Regions from separate parts of the Homo sapiens genome. Here region 1 is linked to region 2. The links come from fine-mapping of genetic effects on gene expression. Tissue or cell type: fibroblasts. Region 2 holds a variant in brackets; the other region holds the start of a gene. All regions are shown on one strand. Distances are from middle to middle.

Evidence for each region. PIP is the estimated chance that this variant, and not a neighbour inherited with it, causes the effect.
Region 1: SGK1 starts here. The variant in region 2 is fine-mapped to the expression of SGK1 in fibroblasts (GTEx, PIP 0.96).

What each region holds. Positions count from the first base shown.
Region 1 is chr6:134,312,014-134,322,707 of GRCh38, forward strand. It overlaps SGK1 (serum/glucocorticoid regulated kinase 1), which reads right to left and starts at 6,099. Exons shown (of 14, transcript NM_001143676.3): 1 at 5,379-6,099. The coding sequence starts at 5,447. RefSeq lists an enhancer at 5,647-5,926.
Region 2 is chr6:134,411,973-134,422,666 of GRCh38, forward strand. No RefSeq gene overlaps it. Among named protein-coding and RNA genes, the nearest start is that of LINC01010, 20 kb to the right of the region's middle. The variant G/A (reference allele first, on the strand shown) is at 4,978.

The DNA.
Region 1 (10,694 bases), 100 kb before region 2:
AGTAGTTTCCAATTCAGTAGAGCCAATCCTGCAACAGTATTGGCATCATCGCAGTGCACTCCAGTGACGCAAATGGAAAGACTGCTGCTGGTAAACGAACTACCTGAATTTGAATTCTGGCTATACCTCTTCCTAGGTCTACGATTTTTAACAAATCAGTTAACCTCTGACCCTCAGTTTCCTTGGCTATAAAATGGGCATAATGAAGGATTGTGAGAGTTACCTGAGTAAAGTGCTTTGAACGGTGCTGCTCAATAATGTTATCCCTCTGAGAAGACATCGAAAGTTTCCCATAAGAAAAGGGCCTTTGTTATTCCAATTTGGATACTTTAAGCAGGCAAAATAGAACAGTAAAAGGAAAACAAATGTAAAGGGATGCTGTTTATGAAATAGTTGTGAAGAATAAGCACTTCAGAGGAGCTTAATTTAACTTCTCAGCTCTGCTAGAGTAAACATTGTAACCAGACTAAAAACCTTTCCTTTGTTCCTGCAGTTATTAGAGAAAGGAGGAGGCCAGAGAAGTCATATCATTTCACTTCTCTGAACTTCACCCTGGATTATTTAATGTTGACAGGCATTCGGGATGTATAGAGATTAAGGACACAGACTCTGGAGCCTGGTGCTGGGATCCAAACCCTGATCCTGTCACTAACTAGCTATGTGACTTGGGGCAAGTTCTTCAACTTCTGTACACCTCAGTTTCTTCATCTATGAAATCACAATAATAAAAGTACCTATCTCAGGTATTTTTATATATGATAATTTTTTTTTTTCCTTGAGATGGAGTCTCACTCTGTCATCCCAGCTGGAGTGCAGTGGCGAGACCTCAGCTCACTACAACCTCCGCCTCCCTGGTTCAAGCGATTCTCCTGCTTCAGCCTCCTGAGTAGCTGGGATTATGGGCGCCTGCCATCACACCTGGTTCATTTTTGTATTTTTAGTAGAGACAGGGTTTCACCACGTTGGCCAGGTTGGTCTCGAACTCCTGACTTTAAGTGATCTGCCTGCCTAACCCTCCCAAAGTTCTGGCATTACAGGCGTGAGCCAACGCGCCCAGCCTGTGTATGATGATTTAAATGTGTAATGTACTTAAAGCTCTTAGAACCATGCCCAGCAATATTAATGCCATTTAAGTCATAGTTATTAGAAAAGCTACTGTTATTAAAGAATAATGCAAGGAATTGTTCAAATGCATATAATCATAAAATAGAGAGTCAAGGCTGGGCACAGTGGGTGGCTCACACCTGAAATGTCAACACTTTGGGACGCTCCCTTGAGCCCAGAAACTCGAGACCAGCCAGGGCAACATAGTGAGACCTTGTCTCTGCAAACAACCAACCAACCAAACAAACAAACAAAAATAACAACAACAAAAATACAGAGTCAAAATGGAACGGTCTTGTCAAAGTTGGTAGTCACTATGCCGTTAGTTTCATGAAGATAAAACATGGTTATTTTGTTCCTACTCTATTTGTTGAAAAATGAATGAATGAGGCATGAAAGACTTGACTAGTTTGATGTTGAGAACTTAGCAAAAAGGAAAGCACACGAGATCTGGAAGTGAAAACCCAAAACATGAGTCCTGGCTTAACCTCATTCTAATTTGACAGGTGATTTACCACAGGTACTCAGTTTCCTCATCTTTGAAAGAGGGAAGTCAGAGGGAGAATTTCTGAGGTTCATTCCACATCCAAAATTCTGCAGCGTTAGATAGCCTTTCGAATTTTACAAAAGGTAATGTAATCATGGCTATGGAAGTTTTTTTCACATACCTTGTGTATTTCCAAAAAGGATTATCGAGTTGGAGACAATGTCATTTGTTTGCGTTTTCTAAATCATTATGTAAGAATCTGAGCCACAAACAGAACAAATCTTTAAATCCATGAAAATGGATTACCTTTAGCTGGACTGACAACTTTTAAAACTCTTGGATTGGGAGAATAAAACTGATAAGGACATTTTTCCATTCATCTTAAATGAATTTTTGGAGACTCTTAAGAGTAAAATATAATCCATATACATCTAATGCTAATTTATCATGAACACTTAAAGAATGAAAGTAGAACTCTTATCCAGTTTAGTTCAGCAATTCTCTGCTAAATGAAATTAAGCTGCTTTAGTTGAGCTTTTAAAATATGAGGATGAGAAGCATAAATCCAAAGGATTTTGTAGAACTAGCATCCGGACTGTCTTTCTTCAGATTATGTTCCTAGAATCTGGGTTCCCCAGGGCAGCCTCTCATTACTGTCAGTATTAAGGACTAGAAAGGAGCTGGAAGAGGCTTGGCCGCTTTTATAGGTTTTTGGTAGTGGCATAAAGATTTCACTTGGTTGGGGGAGGGGGGTAGGGGGACAGAAGAGTCTGTTGTGGAAACTAAAAGAAAAGAAGGGGAGAGTGGTCTGAAATCAAAAAGTCTGGATTACGTATACAAGCTTTGAGTTGAACAAGGTTTAAATTTTAGCTCTGCTACTTTTTAGTTATGTGACCTTGGGCGAATGGTTTAATCTCTCTAAGTCACACTTTGCACATTTAATAATGTTTCTTACCTTATAGGGTTACTGTGAATATTAAATGAGCTAATACATGTAAAGCATTCCTACCCAGAACATAGTCAGCTCTAATAAATAGTGACTGACAGACAGCTACAAGGGCAGATAACCTATATTCTCCTTCAGTTTCTTATGCTCCCTCTGGAATGTCTCAGAAGCATAGGAAGCACTGTTTAAGCCTCCTGCAATCAAAAATCATTCTTTTTAATTAGCCCTAATAGACCCTATGGTTTTTTTTTTTTTTTTTCCAAAATCTATTCATAGTTTAATGTGGGCTATGGACAAAGGTTCACTTTGTAAGACTGTCTAGCTAGGTTAAAAATAAAATATGCAGAAATGTGTGGAACTTCAACAATAGAATATAAGAAAATGAATTATTCTGAACTGCAAACAAAGGCATTGTAGTATATGAATGTGTATGTGAAGTAAAAGTTTGGAAAGTATAAACATCAGTATGGTAACAGTTACTACATCTGGGAAAGGGAGAAAGATTGGAGAGGAGGTGGGATATACCTTATTATTGTTTTAATGTTTTATAGATGTATTTACATATTGTTTAACTAAAAACAAACAAACAAAAAAAGCAAAGTCATGTACAAGCAGAAATAAACATTTAGAATACAGAATTTGTGGAATAAACCAAAGTAGACAAAAATCAAAGAATTTATCCCTGGGGCATTCAATGACTTGATACAAGGTCACCTTCTACTTAGTTAACTGTCCTTGAGGAGTAAGGAGAGCGCAGGGGCAGGAGAGATGTCTGATCCTGTCTCCAGCAACTGATAGACCCAGGTTAGAAGTTAGATGAAGCTGCCTGCCAGTTATCTTGGTAGAAACTTCTTTCTGCATGTACTCAGATAAGACATCAGTACCCTGGGTGGTTCTCTGCAAAATTCAAGGTCTGCAGAGTCACCAACTGAAGTCTATTGGTAAACTTGCTTTTAAGCAAAACAAAACCAAATGGCAAATTAGTATTTCTATTAGTACATTTTGATAACAAAGAAAATAAAAGACAATTTAAAATTTATGTAACTTAAATCTACATTGCTTAAGAACATCTGACTGAGGAGTTTTAGAATATCCCCAATACCATGAAATAAATACAGTAATTAAAAGGCAATAGAGTTTAAATACTGGATAATGGGCTATGGCATTTTTAAAATTAGCAAAACATTTGTTTATTATTGAAAATTAGGGCTGGGCCTGGTGGTGGACATCTGTAATCCCAGCAATTTGGGAGGCTGAGGCAGGAGGACCACTTGAGCCCAAAAGGTCAAGACCACCCTGGGCAATATAGCAAGACCCCGTCTCTAAAAAAAAGAAAAAGAAAGAAAGAAAATTAATTTTCATAAAGGGCTCTTCCCTTGGAAAGAAATATTTTAGCTACAGAGAAAAACTAAGAAGCCTTGTGGAGCTCTGTGAAGTTGCACTGACTTGCTTTCACTTAGCTTGCAGCTCACTAGTGAGATTTCACATGGTACTCCCACTCCAAGAGCAGGGGCCAGGACAGGTTGGTTTCATTTTGGTTTGAATGCATATGCTTTGGCCCACAGACTTGGAGAAAGATTTTGCTTTACTGATGAGAACTCAGTCAAGGGTGCTTGGGAGCCTTCGCTGGCCCTCTAGCTGGGCCTGACATGTTGCCTGCATTTCTAGCCTTGCCTTCCCAGCTTGCCCATTTGGTGCAGGGAGATAGTCCAGCCCACCCTGAAATTCACTGTGTTCTGCGGATGAGTTAACTGAAGGGCTGTGTTTCAGGAGTGGCACAGAAAGGACCTGAATGAAAGGAAGGAGGAATGAATGGAGAGAACCATTTTGGTGGAATTGCCCTAGGGTATTAAATAGGATGGGGCAACTGGGGACTGGAGGATGTTCCTTCTCTTACGTTGCTTAGGAAACACTGTCCTTAAGAGTGTCAGTGTCATTCCTTTAACAATCATTCATTTCTTACCTCCCGCTTGTGTATAAATTTGCAGATTTACACAGACCACCAGTGTGGCCATCCCAGTGAACTGAGTTTATTGTGAAATATACATGCAAAAAAATCCTTTTTTCTCACCTACAACCAATGCAACATTATTCATACTTTGAGTTGAAGAATAAGGAGTTTAAGAAATAAATGCATACAGCAACATAACCCTGAATTATCACTCAAATACAGACCTCCCACTGCTCTCTCCCAAAAAAAAAAAAAAAAAAAAAAAAAAAAAGGCAGTTATTCTAAGCAAAAGCAAAAATTGAGGCAACTTAAAATAGACAATTTTAAATGCTGGATTCCATCATTTCTGTAAAAGGTCATTCTACTCCTTTGCTATTTATACCACAGATAGAGACACAGCAAATTATTGGCTGAATGGATTTGGGAAACCAGAAGCTGCTGCTTCTGACGAACGAAGATGATAATGCATCACTTGAGACTGAGTGGATGAAAGGTGTAGAAAAGTTGAACCCTTCAAAGATGAGAGGAAGCTGCTAAATTAGCCCCTGACTAAATTACTAGCCATAATTGTACTCAAGCCAGTTCTCTTTGCGACTGCCTTGTAATCTTTGTTGTGGCTTGAGAGAGAAAAATCCCCATTCCCAGCTCAAACCCGTTTAAGGCATCTCAGCCCAACCCCCTCCTCCCAATGCAACTCTTCATAGCCCCCTGCCCCTCCTCCAACAAATTCTAATCAAGTCAGGTATAGTTCTCAGCTTTACCACTGCCATCAGAAGCACGGCTTACATTAAGGGTTTAGCAACAAAACCTCAGGCTTACTTCAGGCAAACATTCAAAAGCATTTAAGAGAAGCACAGAAAACAAAAGAAATAAGCAAAACCTGTCCTTACCCGCTTCTTAAAAAATTGGAAGGCTGAGCATTTCTTGACTGGGAATCCATTCATGTCTTTGTTTACCATTTTCCACCGTGGGGAATTCACAGTTATAGATCCAGGTTGGCACCCGCCTGGTTAGTGCATATCTGTTTCCCCGGTTTACCTCCTGCAGACAGTTAATGAAGACTGAGCGGGATGGAGAATCTAGCGGGGCTCAGTTCTTCACTCGCGCATTCTGCAGCACCAGCTACTGCAGCAACCTCTCCCCACTTTCAGTTGCCACCGACAGCGGCTTTTCTCCTTCCATCATTGCTCCGAAACATATGCATCACCGCTGCAGGACCCTGGGGGCCGGACGGTGGGATACGGCCAATCTCCGGGGAGATGCTGTGGCTCTTACCGAGCGGGAGAAGGGTACGCCTCCCCGCCCCCAGCTACCTGGCTGCTCTTCCGCGGCCGGCGCGGGGAGCGAGTCGCTCTTCTCCAGGTGATGCGCTCCTGGAGGCGGCTTGAGAGAGGAGAGTTGTTTTTGATTGTGCAAGTTCCAGTGGGAGCTGTAGTTAAGCAGCTGAGAGAAGGAGTAAGAAAGAGCAGAAGCCAGAGGGAGGGAGGGAGAACAGCGCCAGAAAGGCAGAGGGAGCGAGAAGGCGAGGCTGGAAGAAGCAACGGTTCATGAATATCTGAGCAGCGGATGGAGAGAAGGCACAGCCGGCTCAGGGCACACTGAAGAGCAGTTGACTCCCCTTGGGAGGGTTACTTTAAATAGCTTCTTTTCTTTCTTTCTTTTTTTTTTTTTTTGGTTAGGACCATTTAAATCAGAGTTTCATATAAATTGCACACCGTTTTTATTTTATGCTCATTGACATTCTTTTGAATCCTGTTGCTGAATAAAAGCCTCTCAACGGAAATGTAATCACATTTAATCTCGACCTGTCCAAACGTGGAAGAAAATGAAATAAAGTGCAAGCGTAGGTATAACAATGGAAGATCTCTCACTATGTAGAAGCTCTTTTAGCCTCCCCTCCCCTACTTGTCATTATATAGTGGGCAATGGTGACGGTAATTGTGTCTTTTTCATTAAAACAGCTTATTAAAAAAAGAACACAATGAACATATACAAAGTACTTTATTACACACATACACACACACACGAGTTATTACCAAAAAGTACTACTGAATCCATTTAATGATGAGGAAGGTTTGATAAATAAAAGAGTAAAGCATTCTTCCTATTAGGTGAAAAATTTCCCAAAAAATCCTTACTCATGTTATCCTTTGCACACTGAGCTCCTTTTAAAAAAGCCATTTAATTGTATGTGGCTTATTTTTCCATTTTTATTCTTTAATGTTGATATTTTATGGGAATGATTTTAAAGATTAGTTGATAGTAAAGCAAGAAAGCAAAGAAAATAAACTTGGCATCTGACCTGGCAGAAAGCCACCAACATCGGTGTGTGGCTTTCTGCCATCACCTGACCTCACTGTGCCTTTCGGACACTGCCTCATCCATAAAATGGAGGCAGCCACTCATTCATTCATTCACTCATTCATTTATTTAGTCATTCATTATTTGCTATTTCATTCCATTAATAAATCTAACTCTGACAAGTGTCCTCAGGATGTGGAGCCTTTTCATAATCATCACAAGGGAATATAATTGATAAATAAGTGAAAGGCGCAATGCTAATTTGAAACTGATTATGACCTCATTATATATAACACACCTAACATTGTTAAAGTATTTACATGGAAGTCTCTGGTAAGAAGAGAAACATCAGGTTAAACTGGGAAAGAAATGCATGGGTTTCATTGAATTGGACTATAAATCTCTACAGTTGGGCCAGAGTTTTTGGGAATAAACATGAAATCCTGTTTGCTAAATGCCTTGAGGTTTCCAAAAAGAAAATGCAATACAACTAAATGATGGCATGATAACCAAGGGAAAACAACTATTCATTTTGGAGAGATATGTTAAGTTGTCCAAGATGCAAGTATATGTTATGTAATCTACAACATTGATAAGTTTTTGTGGTTCTTCTAAAGAGTTCATTTAAAATTATGGTAGTTCAAAGGGAATTATTTTGAGACGATGGAAGTGTTCTCTATCATGATGATGGTGGTGGTTACATAACTATGCATTTGTCAGAACTCATCAAATTTTATATAGGAAAAGGGAAACTTTTGCTGCATGTAAATTATACCTCAATGGACCTCATTTTAAAAAATGATGGTCATTCAAGTTCTTTCTTTTTCGTCCCATTGCCACTCCCCCAAAAGTGTTTTAACAGACATTTATTGAATTTGAGTAATATACAGGAGGGGACCTTTAAGCACTCTGCTAGGAAGGAGGTGCTGGGGCTTTGCTTAATCCCACATTGGCCTAGCATGCATACTGGTTGATATCATTTGGCTGTGTCCCCACCCAAATCTCGTCTTGAATTGTAGTTCCCACAGTGAGTGATTTCTCATGAGATCTGATGGTTTTATAAGGGGCTTTTCTCCCTTTTGCTCAGCACTTCCCCTTCCTGATGCCATGTGAAGAAGAATGTGTTTGCTTCCCCTTCTGCTCTGATTGTAAGTTTCCTGAGGCCTCCCCAGCCATGCTGAACTGTGAGTCAATTAAACCTCTTTCCTGTATAAATTACCCATCTCACTATGTCTTTATTAGCAGTGTGAGAACGGACTAATACCCTGGTTTCATGTAGGATGTATGTTCATTTGGGGTGCAGGCGGGTGGTTAATAGAGATTATGAGGGAGGAGAAGACAAGCTAAATGCTATCTTTTCCCTCACTCCATGCCACCTCTTGAAGATGCTGCCACTGTCACTTGGTCTATGCTAGATCCTATGGAAGGTCCAGTGCATGTAAGTGTCACTGGTTTTTGTCACCAAGGAACTCACAGCCTAGTAGAGAAATATACAGTGTGGTAAGAATACTATATACAGTAGTCCTCCCTTATCTGAGGTTTTACCTTCCACAGTTTCAGTTACCTAAGGTCAACAATGGTCTGAAAATCAGTGAGTACAATACGATACTTTTAGAGACACAGAGAGAGACCACAGTCACATCATTTTTATTATCGTACATTGTTAAAATTATTCTACTATTGTTGTTAATCTCTTACTGTGCTTGATTTATAAATTAAACTTTATTATAGGTATGTATGTACAGGAAAAAACATAATGTATATGGAGTTTGGTACTATCTGAAGTTTCACGCATCCATGGGGGGGGTCTTGGAATGTATCCCCCATGGATAAGAGTGTACTACTCTGTGTGTGTGTGTGTGTGTGTGTGTGTGTGTGTGTGTGTGGTGTGTATGCATCAACCCTGCCTTAATTTGGAGGGGGGAAGGGTGGGGCTGGATGGGTAAGAGAGGTCCAGGAAATTTACCTAAAGGGATGATGTTAGTGCATGGCCTTAAAGAATGAGTAGGTCAGTCAGATGAAGGAAGAGAAGTATAGGGCAGGGATTCTGACTATATCTGACAGCCAATTATTTTGGATTATCTTTTGATTGGTGCAATAATAGAGAAATGCATTAACTGCACTGTGTTGGTTATTCAGGAAAAGAAGGCATCTTTCATCTCACTCTGACCTCTATTTTCATAAGTAAAGCTGCCCTCAGGTAAGCCCAGAGTGACTACTGTTTACTAAATGTTTCCTTTGACAGGTCCACTGTTGATACCTATAAAGGAGCACAGGCTCCTGCTTATAATAATAAAAAAAAAAACTCTGGACTCATGCAACATCTTGTTTATAAATCAAACTTAATTTAATTAATTAACTCACTTCTTGTTCCCATAAAACACACTTATTTATTTTTGTAGCACCAGCACACAGCGGAGTGCCTGGGCCATGCTAGCACTCAACAAATGGTTTTCAAACGAATTAAATACAAAAGTAAGTATAGCTGACATCAGTGACCCTGGCACCAGACCATTTGCAGGAATCATTAAATACCTTTAAGATTCTTCAGTCATTAAGCTCTCTCCCATGATAGCCAATATGCTGAGCTCCAGTAAGAGCAAACGACCTCACTCCTCACCATTTCCTCTTTAAGCCTCAATGACACTGTAGCCCTGGGATGACACTTCTTTTTGATGGAAAATCCCAATGTTAAAAATAATCCCTTGGGCCAGGCACAGTGGCTCATGCCTATAATGCCAACAATTTGGGAGGCCGAGGTAGGAGGATAACTTGAGCCCAGGAGTTTGAGACCAGCCTGGCAACATAGCAAAGCCCCATTTCTACAAAAAGGAAAAAAAATAGGTGGTGTGGTGATGCATGCCTGTGGTCCAGCTGTTTAGGAGGCTTAGGTGGAAGGATTGCTTGACCCTGGGAAGTTGAGGCTGCAGTGAGACATGGTTGTTCCACTGCACTTTAGCCTGGGCAACAGAGCAAGACTCTCTCAAAATAAATAAATAAATAAACAAACAAACAAAAAGAATCCCTTGAACCTCTATTTGATTTTTTTGTGGTATACCTACTTTTCCTCCCAACAATATTGTTTAGGCTGTCACACAAAGAATAAAATAAAGTAGCTAGGTAGGACTAACTACCAATATGTACCTGCGGTGGAAAGACTGCTGTATTGATTTGGAACATCTTCTACCTCACTTCCATTCCCTAATTGTGCAACCTTCAACAAGTTCCCTCAACGCACTAAGCCTCAGTTTCTTCATCTGTAAAATAATAATAATAAAATGCTTCTTCACCTACCTCCTAAAGGAATTGTCAGTACCAAATTATATTTGAAAGGGTTTTGCAAAGTAATAAATAACTCTACATTTCTTTGTTTCACTAAAGCAAGAGGCATATGCCACTGTAATACTTTTTAGAAAGTCTATCTTCCCATAGATTAAAGTGTTTTTGTGTGATACATTTAGTTGTTGAATGGAATGTAATTTTTTTCGATAGCACCCCAGAATACACAAAAGATAACAAACAATAAAGTATCTGTTTAGTGACAAATGTCCCTAAGGAGAAAGGGATAAAAATACATCACCTCATGAGAAATGTTTTACATTCCTTTTTGGCCTGAGTGACTCGATCATATGCTTAAAACTCCAGCCACAGTGGTAGTGATGTATTTAATGAAGAATTAGGAAACCCTGCTGGGGATTATGGGTTTGTTTTTGTACATGCAAAAGACCCTTTTTAATTTTATTTTATTTGCTTTTTTGAGAAAGGGTCTCTCTCTGTCACCCAGGCTGGAATGCAGTGGTGTGATCATGACTCACTGCAGCCTCAACCTCCTGGGCTCAAGCGATCATTCCACCTCTGCCTCCCGAGTAGCTGAGATTACAGGTGCGTGTCACCATGCCCAGCTA
Region 2 (10,694 bases):
CTTAGCCTTCAGTCCCTGTAATATTGGGGTGTTGCTTTGATTGTACCTGCTCTCCACTCACCCTGCAGGTACTAGAGTCCTTCTCTGAACCATACACAGAGGTCCTGTTCCTATTCCCTAATGACAGAGTTTCCCCAAAGCAAACAAAGTTCTTTGTTTACGAATTGACCAGCTCTTGAATTCTTTACTGCTTGTTAGGTCATCTGATGCCAAATGCTTACCTAGACTCCTGAAAGTTGGCTTTTGTCTACTTCCAGAAACCCCTCAGGTGAAGTAGTTCTGAAATTTTAGTGTGCATCAGAGTCCTCTGGAGGGTCTGTTAAAACACATATTACTGGGCTGCAACCCATGAGCTTCTGATTCTGCAGGCTTGGGGATGGGGCTAGAGAGTTTCCGTTTCTAATGTGTTCCCAGATGATGCTGGGACCTGCACTTTGAGAACCACTGCAGGCCTGCTAACAGATTGTTAGAATAAATGTTCTTTTTTCCAGGAGGTAAGCCTGTACCCATCCTCTAGGAAGCAAGACTGATTCATGGTCCCAAGGCCTCTGATTTTTCCAAATCTGATTTCAGTTTTTGAGGTCATATCTAGCCTGATGAAAGTTGGCTATATATGAACAATCTACCCTCTTCAGTATAGTGGCTATTTGACTGAATTCATTCATGAATTCCACTTTCAAACTACTTTGTAGATACAGATGCAGAACTATATTTTTTGCAGGATATTTCCTTTTGCAAAGAAGAAACAGGGCTGCTTAAAATACATTATGAAGCTAACCTAAATTACAGAGTCAGTAACATCATTGCCATTTCCTGAGCCTCTAGTATATAGCCAGCTGTTTCACATATGCATCATTCAAAGTCCTGGTAGAAAAGATATTCCATATTTCCTCTTGGTAATTTGATGAGAATTCAACAAAGAAACGGTTTACAAAGTGTGGGTAGGGTTTAAGGAAACCACAAAGGATGGCATAGCACCCCAGGGCGAGGAGGAGTGGGACCCTAGTGCTGACAGGAGTGAGGGTAGCTGTTTAGAAGAAGGCTGCCTGTGGGCTGGGCACAGTGGCTCACGTCTGTAATCCCAACACTTTGGGAGGCCAAGGCGGGTGGATCACCTGAGGTCAGGAGTTCAAGACAAGCCTGATCAATGTGGAGAAACCCAGTCTCTACTAAAAATACAAAATTAGCCAAGCATGGTGGCACATGCCTGTAATCCCAGCTACTTGGGAGGCTGAGGCAGGAGAATTGGTTGAACCCAGAAGGCAGAGGTTGTGGTAAGCCAAGATTGTGCCATTGCATCCAGCCTGGGCAACAAGAGCAAAACTCGGTCTCAAAAAAAAAAAAAAAAGAAGAAGAAGAAGGCTTCTTTTGTAGGCTTCTGTGCATGAAGCAGCTGACCCACTGCCTGTTTCTCCAGATTCTTTCAGCATCTACCCATTACCCAATCCCATAGCCACTTCCACATTTTCAGATATTTATTCTAGCAACAACTTCACTTCTTGGTACCTGTTTTCTGTCTTTGTTTTCTGTTGCTATAACAGAATACTTGAGACTGAGTAGTTCATAAAGAAAAGACATTTATTTGGCTCATGGTTCTGGAGGCTGGGAAATCCAAGGGCATGGCAGCAGCTTCTGGCAAGGGCTTTAGTACCACATTGTAACATGCCACAAAAGCAAAAGGGCAAGTGAGCATGTGCAAAAGAGATCACAAGACTGAGTCAAGCTTGTTTTTGTAATAATCTGGTCTCAGTAGAACTAGCTAATTCCTGCATTAACAGCATTAATCCATTCATAAGGGCTCTGCCCTCATGACCCAATCAACTATTAAAAGTTCCACCTTTTAATATTGTTACATTGATAATTAAATTTCCAACACATGAACTTTTGGGAGATACATTTAACCTGGCAAGGAAGGAGCTTGGAGAGTAAATTTCTGAATCTCCCTCTTCTCTCAACTCTGATCATCCTCTGGTGCCTCCATGGGCATATCCCATAGAAAGTCAGGTGGCAAGAGAACTTGTTGAAGCCATTCATATGGGTCAACCTCCCAAGACATAGCACTTATCAAAAAGGGTAAAACAACCAAGTGAGGTGGCTCACACCTGTAATCCCAGTACTTTGGGAAGCCAAAGTGGGAGGATCACTTGAAGCCAGGAGTGTGAGACCAGCCTAGGCAACACAGTGAGACTCCACCTCTCCAAAAAATAATTTGAAAATTAACTAGTGTGGTGGTACACATTTGTAGTCTCAGCTACTTGGAAGGCTGAGGCAGGATAATTGATTGAGCCCAGGAATTTGAGGCTCAGTGAGCTAGCATTGTGCCATTGTACTTGCTCTGAATGGGAGACAGAGTGAGACCTTGTTTCTAAAAAAAAAAGGGGGGGGTGGGGGGAGCAGACATGGTGGCTCACACCTGCAATCTCAGCACTTTGGGAGGTCAAGGTGGGAGGATCACTTGAGCTCAGGAGTGTGAGACCAGCCTGGGCAACATAGTGAAACCTTATCTCAATTAAAAAAGAAAGACTAAAAAGAAGTAAGGAAGGAAGGAAGGAAAGAAAGAAAGAAAGAGGAAGGGAAGGGAAGGGAAGGGAAGGGAATGGGGAAAGAAGGGTAAAGTGTGAATCTGGAGGGATCCACACAACTTGTTACTGTTATGCAGACCTTTATATCAGCCAAATCAGGAAAACACTATTCTCAGCTTACAAGCTCTGAGGGGCTAGGTAGCCTACTTTGTTAACATGGCAAATAGGCTGTAGAGCAATTCACCAGTCCCCTTCATTTATCCTAACCCCATTAGAAGAAGGGGACTGAAGAGAAGAGACACCTCCCCAGAGAACCAGGGACCCTCCCCAGGTTCTGTGTTTCTGTCATCCTGGGAATGTTCAGCAGCATAGAGAGCTTCATAGCATGTGCTTCTGAGAAGCTGGGACTAGGCGGTGTGTTGTTGGGGGTTCTGGGTTTGTTGGGAGAAAGCCTGGCTTCCGATGCTCAGCGTTTCCTCTAATTGTGCAGCATCACTGCACAGACCAGAGGAAGGACATATGTATTCCCTGGGGTCTACGAGAAATAGCAAAAAGGCCTGACGTAGATTAAGCCTTGCTTCCTTCTTCTGGTACATTGGTACATGTCACTCCCTTCTTTGCTAGTCAGTCACTGACTTTCTGTGAATATCATCAACAGTCAGTCGTTATTTACCAAATGCTATCGTGTACAGGGCTGGTATGCAGGTCTCACATTTTTCATTGTAAATAATAGTACTTGTGAAACCTTTGGTTCGAAGATTTCGATCTTTGTCATCAATTACATCTCAGAATAATTTACTTGATGCTTATTAATGATTTCAGCATTCTTGGGTGAAAGGCATTATACATCTTTTATTTTTCTCTACGGATGTAGAGTTGAAGGAGAAAGATTTTGCAAGTTGACATTTTTATTTTTTGCAACACTGAACGTTTCACTGCCAAACATGACATGAGTACCTTAAAAAAACCCAAAGTAACTGTTCTAGAAGTTCAAACACAAGTTATTCAGCAAAGTGCCTTCTGTCTGCCTGTGACCTTTGTGCCAAGGTTTAAATTCAGCAAGCAGAGAAAGGCTGAGAAAAATGATCTAAGGAAGCTCTCTTTATGGAAGGAAGGGGAGGGATTTAGAACAGGTTCAAATGTCTTCAGAAGCAGAGCAAAGAAAGAACTGTGTGTGAGGGGAGTGGGGAGGCTGGCGAGGAAGACTAAGGACCCAAGAATTGGAGGATCCCAGGGCACTGTGAAAACTCTCACCCATCTGTAGGGCAAATTCTCTTGACTGCAGTTAGTTCAAGGAGGGTGAAAATAAGATCGTGGCAACACATGATGCAACCTGTGTCTGCTTTTCCTAGTCAACAGTTACCTATCCAGGCAGTGAAAAGTGTGGCGCTAAAGCTTATCAGCATCACAGCAAATGCAAACCTTAGAGAGAAGGGAGCGAGCAGGTAACAGCAGGTGCAGGGAAATTTAAGACACTGCAGAGCCCACATTATGAACACATAATGATCATGTGGGTGTCTGCTTTATCTCTGCTGTGGAACATTGTGATAAATTATTAATAAAATGGTTTGTGTAAGCAGTGATGAAAAGGAGACCTATTTTTGCCCAACAAACTGAAGCAAATTGGAGGCAAGGGGTTTTTACTTTTCAGTCAGAATTTTGAAAATACATTAAAAACAAATATGTAAATGGTATCTGTGCTCTTCATAAATTCATAAATAAAAGGGAATAAAAGAACAAAGCTTGAATCAGAACAAATATCTCTAAGTAAAGTTAGCTAAGGAAGTGTGGTGTTTCTGATATTTAGCCATACACCCCATTGACTCCAATGCCGAAGATAACTGTTTTTTTACTCTTTTATTTTTTTTTTGGAAATGGGGGTCTCACTATGTTGCCCAGGCTGGCTTTGAACTCCTAGCCTCAATCAATCCTCCCACTTCAGCCTCTCAAGTAGTCAAACGTTAATTTGAAACTATCTTGAGAATGTGACACAAAGATGCTGAATTTCTTTAAAATGCATGTGACAATTGCTACGGAGCAAGACATCCGGGGAACTTCCTTTTTTGGAGTGGGGATGGGGGGGAACATCTGTGTACACATCTACACATCTGTGGTTCAATATAATTGGGTTGTTTCTTTTTGCCTTTTACTGACATACTGTTGTGAATGTTGTGATACAGCGGAAGCTGTCAAGATAAGACTCCTTCACCACCAGGGTTTCACACAGGCTTTACTAGAAAGGACTGCCTGTGGCCTGCGCCGCAGAGGAGGGACCCAGAAAAGTGCACATGTGCTCAGTCTATCCCCACCCATTCATTTTCTCTGCAGGGTCTGTATTGGACCTGATGTCACCACCGTGTTGTTCTGAGTCAGATTGGATGAAATTCCTTTACTGGGACTTCGCTGAGACTAATTGGATACAGTGTGTTGTTCTGACTTAGAAAACACATTGCTC[G/A]TAATTCTGATATTTATTACCAAAGGACTTCCAGGAAGAGTTTGTGAATCAGTTACTAGAACCTGAGGACTCATGCATATGACTATGTATGTATTTATGGTTCCGTGATATGGAGTTCAAAACCAAGCAAGCACTCTGAGGTCTCAACTTCCTGAGTCCTACACTGCATGTAGGACATTTCTTACTGTGGACTTATGAGTCCATAAACCTTTATTGGCTCCATTGCTGCTTTGCTGAGACACCTCCCACCGCTGTTACGTTCTAGAACTTGTCATTCATCTTATTTCTAGCTCAGTTTACTACTCCATAACTAATGGCTGCTAATATTTACTCACTCCTGAGTGGTATTAAGAGATTTCGAACATGTAAAATGATATATTTGAAAAGCATCCAGAAAATATTGTCATGTTTGAGAACTTGAACAAGATCAGTGTGGAAGAGATGGGAGCAGTTTGGACAAATAGCACCGATTCCATGCACCTATTACTTTAAGTCAGTTACTCAGCTTAAAGAGACTTGTTTTTAAAGGCTGGAGACCAAGAAAAAATTGTTTCAATGTTGATTGATCCATAGAAGCATACAGGGAAGTGGTTGAGTGCACTAACTTTGGACATGCACAGATCTGAGTTCCATCTCTGATTCTGCTGCTTGTCAACTGTGTGTCCCTGGTAAAATCGGATAACCTTCTGAGCTCCAATTTCCTTATTTGAAAATTAGAATACCAACTTTAGGCAAGGCGCCAGTAATCCCAGCATTTTGGGAGGGTGAGGTAGGTGGATCACTTGAAGTCAGGAGTTTGCGAACAGCCTAGACAACATAGCGAAACCCTGCGTCTACTAAAAATACAAAAATTAGCCAGGTGTGGTGGTGCATGCCTGTAATCCCAGCTACTCAGGAGGCTGAGGCAGGAGAGTCGCTTGACTTGGGAGGCGGAGGCTGCAGTGAACTGAGATTGCGCCACTACACTCCAGGTGGGGTGACAAAGTGAGACCCTGTATCAAAAAAAAAAAAAAAAAAGAATACCAACTTTAGAGGGTTGTAAAGACTAAATAATATGCATAAAGGGCTTAGCAGAATGCGTGGCACACAGGCTCAATCAATACATGTTCCGCGGACAGCTCTCAGAATGAATAACTGTATCATGCTAATTTCACAATTTGAGGATGAAAGATGGAAAGGAATCTAAAATAACACAGATTTTAGGACAAGGTTTCTGATTAACCTACTGATCACATCAGAATAAGACAATGTTGCTTTGATTTTTTCCCCTCAATCCTTCAGAGGTTATGGTTTTGGGGTTTTTTGTTTGTTTTTGGACACAAGGTCTCCCTCTGTCACCCAGGCTGGAGTGCAGTGGTATGATCACAGCCCACTGCAACCTCGACCTCCTAGACTCAAGCAATCCTGCAACCTCAGCCTCCTCAGTAGCTGGGACCACAGGCATGTGCCACCATACCTAGGTAATTGTAAAATTTTTTTTAGAGATGAGGTCGCACTATGTTGCCTAGGCTGGTCTCGAATTCCTGGGCTCAAATGATTCTCCCGCCTCGGCCTCCCAAAGTGCTGGGATTACAAGCATGAGCCACCGCATCTGGCCTGTTTTTTAACTAAAATCTAGAGGTTCATGACCACATTACACTGCTGGAGAACCTCATTTTAAGAACAAGCTGTTTTCCAAGAGTTTGGTTGCCGGTAGGCTGTTTGGAAATTAAAAAAATATATATTTCAAATAGAAACAATGTTAAAATTGGTGAGGACATCCTCAGGCAAGGCTAGGCCATAGCATTATATATACATATACATAGCATTATATATACACATAACACTAGGGATACAATGTAGCTGAATTGATGTAGCTGTAGTGAGTTGTTCCTCTCCCAGCCTCCTGTGGACAGAACTCAGAGGTACATTCTGTTTCTTTTCGTTTCTTTTATTTCCTTTTTTCCTCTCCTTTCCTTTTTTCCTTTCCTTTTCTTTTCTTTTCTTTTTTTTTTTTCTGAGACAGAGTCTTGCTCTGTTGCCCAGGCTGGGGTGCAGTGGTGCAGTCTCAGCTAACTGCAACCTCCACCTCCCAGATTCAAGCAATTCTCCTGTCTCAGCCTCCTGAGTAGCTGGGATCCCAGGTGTGCATCACCACACTCAGCTAATTTTTGTATTTTTAGTAGAGAGATGGGGGTTTCACCATGTTGGCCAGGCTGGTCTTGAACTCCTGACTTCAGGTGATCTGCCCATCTCAGCTTCCCAAAGTGCTTGGATTACAGGCGTAAGCCACCACGCCCCAGCCCTCATTCTGTTTCTAACCTGCTCAGACATTTATGTCTCTCCTTCACTTTTGGGACTCAGATTCCCTGGCATAGGAATCTGGACACCACCTTTTTTTTCTTCACCAAGCCCACATGGCTCCTTCAGTCACCCCACATCTTGTTTCTTCACATGCCTCAGCCTTTGCACAGTGCATTCTTGCTGCCTAGAAGGCCTTCTCTGCCTCCTGTTTTCCCTTTCCCCATACTTCACCTGGAAAAACTTCAACTCATCCTTTCAACACAAGAAACTGCCCCCTCTTCTGTGTTTCCATGACTTCGCACACCTTCACTATAGCATGGGTCACACTGATTAGGGATAACTGGGTTGAACCCCCACCCCTGCCCTGCCAGTCCGGGGACTTTAGCTAGAAACTGTTTGATTTGTCTTGATATAACCACTGCCTAGACTAGGTCACTGGCCATATAATAATAATAAGGAAAAAAGGGTAACAATAACAAACATTTTTAAGTTGCCAGGAACAGTTCTTTAAACGTCTTCTATAGATTTACACATCTGATTTCTTTGGAAAACCTAAAGAGTGGAAACTTGTTTTACAAATGATTAAGCTGAAGCATACAGCAATTAAGCAACTTGCCCGAGGTCGCAGAGCCAGTAAGTAGACTGAGCTGTAGAGGCAAATAGCTGACATATAAATCCAAGCATTTTGGTTCCAAGCTGAAATTCTTGTCTATGAATGACCGAATGCATACATGTTAGATGTTGGCTGAGCTCTTACAGAACAAAAGGAAAGGGGCCAGGCACAGTGACTAACTCCTGTATTCCCAGCACTTTGGGAGGCCAAGGCAGGCTGATCACTTTAGGTCAGGAGTTCGAGACCTCGGTCAACATGGCGAAACCCCATCTCTACTAAAAATACAAAAATTAGCCGGGTGTGGTGATGCGCACTTGTAATTCCAACTGCTTGGAAGGCTGAGGCATGAGAATTGCTTGAACCTGGGAGGCAGAGGTTGCAGTGAGCAGAGATCACGCCACCACACTCCAGCCTGGGTGATGGAGTGACAGACTGTCTCAAAAAAAAAAGAAAAAAAAAGAAAAAAGAAAGGTATTCTGTACCCTTTTTTTAATGGGGTGAAGAAAAAGGAAGAAGAAGAAGGTGATTTGGGAGAGACAATTACCTCCTGATAGAGGGACACAGCCCTGAGAAGTGGCCCCAGGACCTTTATCCCAGGGAGAGGGCAGTGGTGCCATGGGCCTCCACCCCAAGGCTACAATGGGGTCCTTAGAAGCTCCAAGGGTCTGTGCCAGGTCTCAGCTGAAGAAAGTAGGTGAGGCCCATCCCTTAGAGAAGGAGAAGGTCTAGGATGCCTGCTGAAGGCTTCTGAGCAGCTGGTGATGTCAAGAAAGCAGGGTTTCCTTTAACTCCACCTTGAGCACTTGACCATCAGGCCCTCTGATTAGTCACCTCCATCAGCTTGCTCTTCCCTCTGCTCTGCATACAATCTGCTCCTCTTCATCTTTCAGGCTCAGCTTATATGTCACTTCCTTAGAGAAAGCTGGAAAGTAAACAGCAACAGTGGTATTCAAAGCGGGCCACCACCACCTCCCATGATTCCCTATTTGGGTGCCCTGTTTGTTTCCTTATTTGACGTGCTTGTCTTCTTGGTCTGTCTTCTCCATGAGACTGTAGCTCCCTGAGTGGCATGATGCATCTCTATTTTACAGTCCAGTCTCCTGTATCCAGCACCTATTTGGCCTTCAATATAAACTTGTTTGATTAAATAAATGGATAAGTGATTCAGCCTTGGGATGTCATTCCTAATCCTCACTGACTTTTTCCACCTTATCCGTTCCTCCTCCACCCTCCTCTGTAGATAAGCATTGAAAGAATGTTGGTATTTCCTTCACAGAGGAATTACTCATCCTAGGGAAATGGAATAACCACTTCTCTTCTGAGGTAATGAAAAGAAACGGGTTTTTAGATGGATGGACCTGGGTGCAAATCCTGCCCAGCCATGGTTTATGCATAATACTTGGTCATTTTACTTAATCCTTCTGGTCTTTTACTCAAAGGGCATCATAGCACGTTTCTTCCAGGATTGTTATGATGTTTGAATGAGAAGATATATGTAAATATGCTTAACATGGAGCCTATTACAATAGGGGTTCAATACATTATAGCTGCTGTTATTAGTATGGATGTTATTTGTCTTGCAATGCAACCAAATTGGGCTTCAGGCCCCTTGTTTTGGCTGTTATATTTAGCAGGAAAAATTCACAGAAGTGTTAAGAGGGAAGAATAATTCAGTTCTCAAGAAGAGAAAGCTGTTTTTTTCCTTCTCCTTGAATCAGAAAATCTGTTCTTCATGGTGATAGTTGTGTGAATATCACAATAATATCTGAGTTTATCTTTCCTAGAGTTGGCAAATAAATTGGACCCGAGAATGATGTGTGGAATTCAGCCTTCACATTGTTTATGCTGTTTCTCATTTGAAAACAGATGTGTCATGGGGATTCATAGCATCTGCTCTTTCTTCTGTGTTTATTTTCTCATACATCTCTTCTGTCTCTGACACTAAAATGTAAAGTCCCAGAAGGCAAGGATCTTTGTATCTTCAGTATACCTAATATGACACTTGGCCAATGAGGGTAAGGGGAGGCATTCAGTAGATATATGTTTTTGATGACAGTACTTTACATGTTTTCAAGTTACCTTGTCCTAATTAAATAGAAGGGCCCAGGGGAAAAGAAGATAATAGTATAATGCATATATTTGTTCTATCTAATAACAGTTTAACAGAGATCCAATAACTCAATCTAGAAAAAATCAAAGCAGATTTGCCAGACTTATATGATAATGTGGTTTTGTTCTTTATTAAAAAATAAATTTTTATGATAATGTTTGTCCAATATCACAGTGATTTATTTTATTTATTTATTTATGTATTTATTTATTTATTTATTTATTTATTTTTGAGACAGAGTCTTGCTCAGTCCCCCAGGCTGGAGTACAGTGGTGCGATCTCGGCTCACTGCAAACTCCGCCTCCCAGGTTCAAGAGATTCTTCCGCCTCGGCCTCCCAACTAGCTGGGATTACAGGCACCTGCCACCATACTTGGCTAATTTTTGTATTTTTAGTAGAGATGGGGTTTCACCACGTTGGCCAGGCTGGTATCGAACTCCTGACCTCAGGTGATCCGCCTGCCTTGGCCTCCCAAAGTGCTGGGATTACAGGCATGAGCCACTGTGCTCAGCCTCAATATCATAGTAATTTAAAAAATTTAAGGCTACTTTTAACACAGAATAGCTAGTAATTTTTTTTTAACTTTAACAGAACCAGAAGGTTACTCTGCACCAGGGAAAATGCATTTCCTCTCTCTCTTTCTACCTGTACCTCCCACTTCTGCATTCCACTGCATTATTGGTCAAAGAAAAGCCAAATCTTTATATGGAA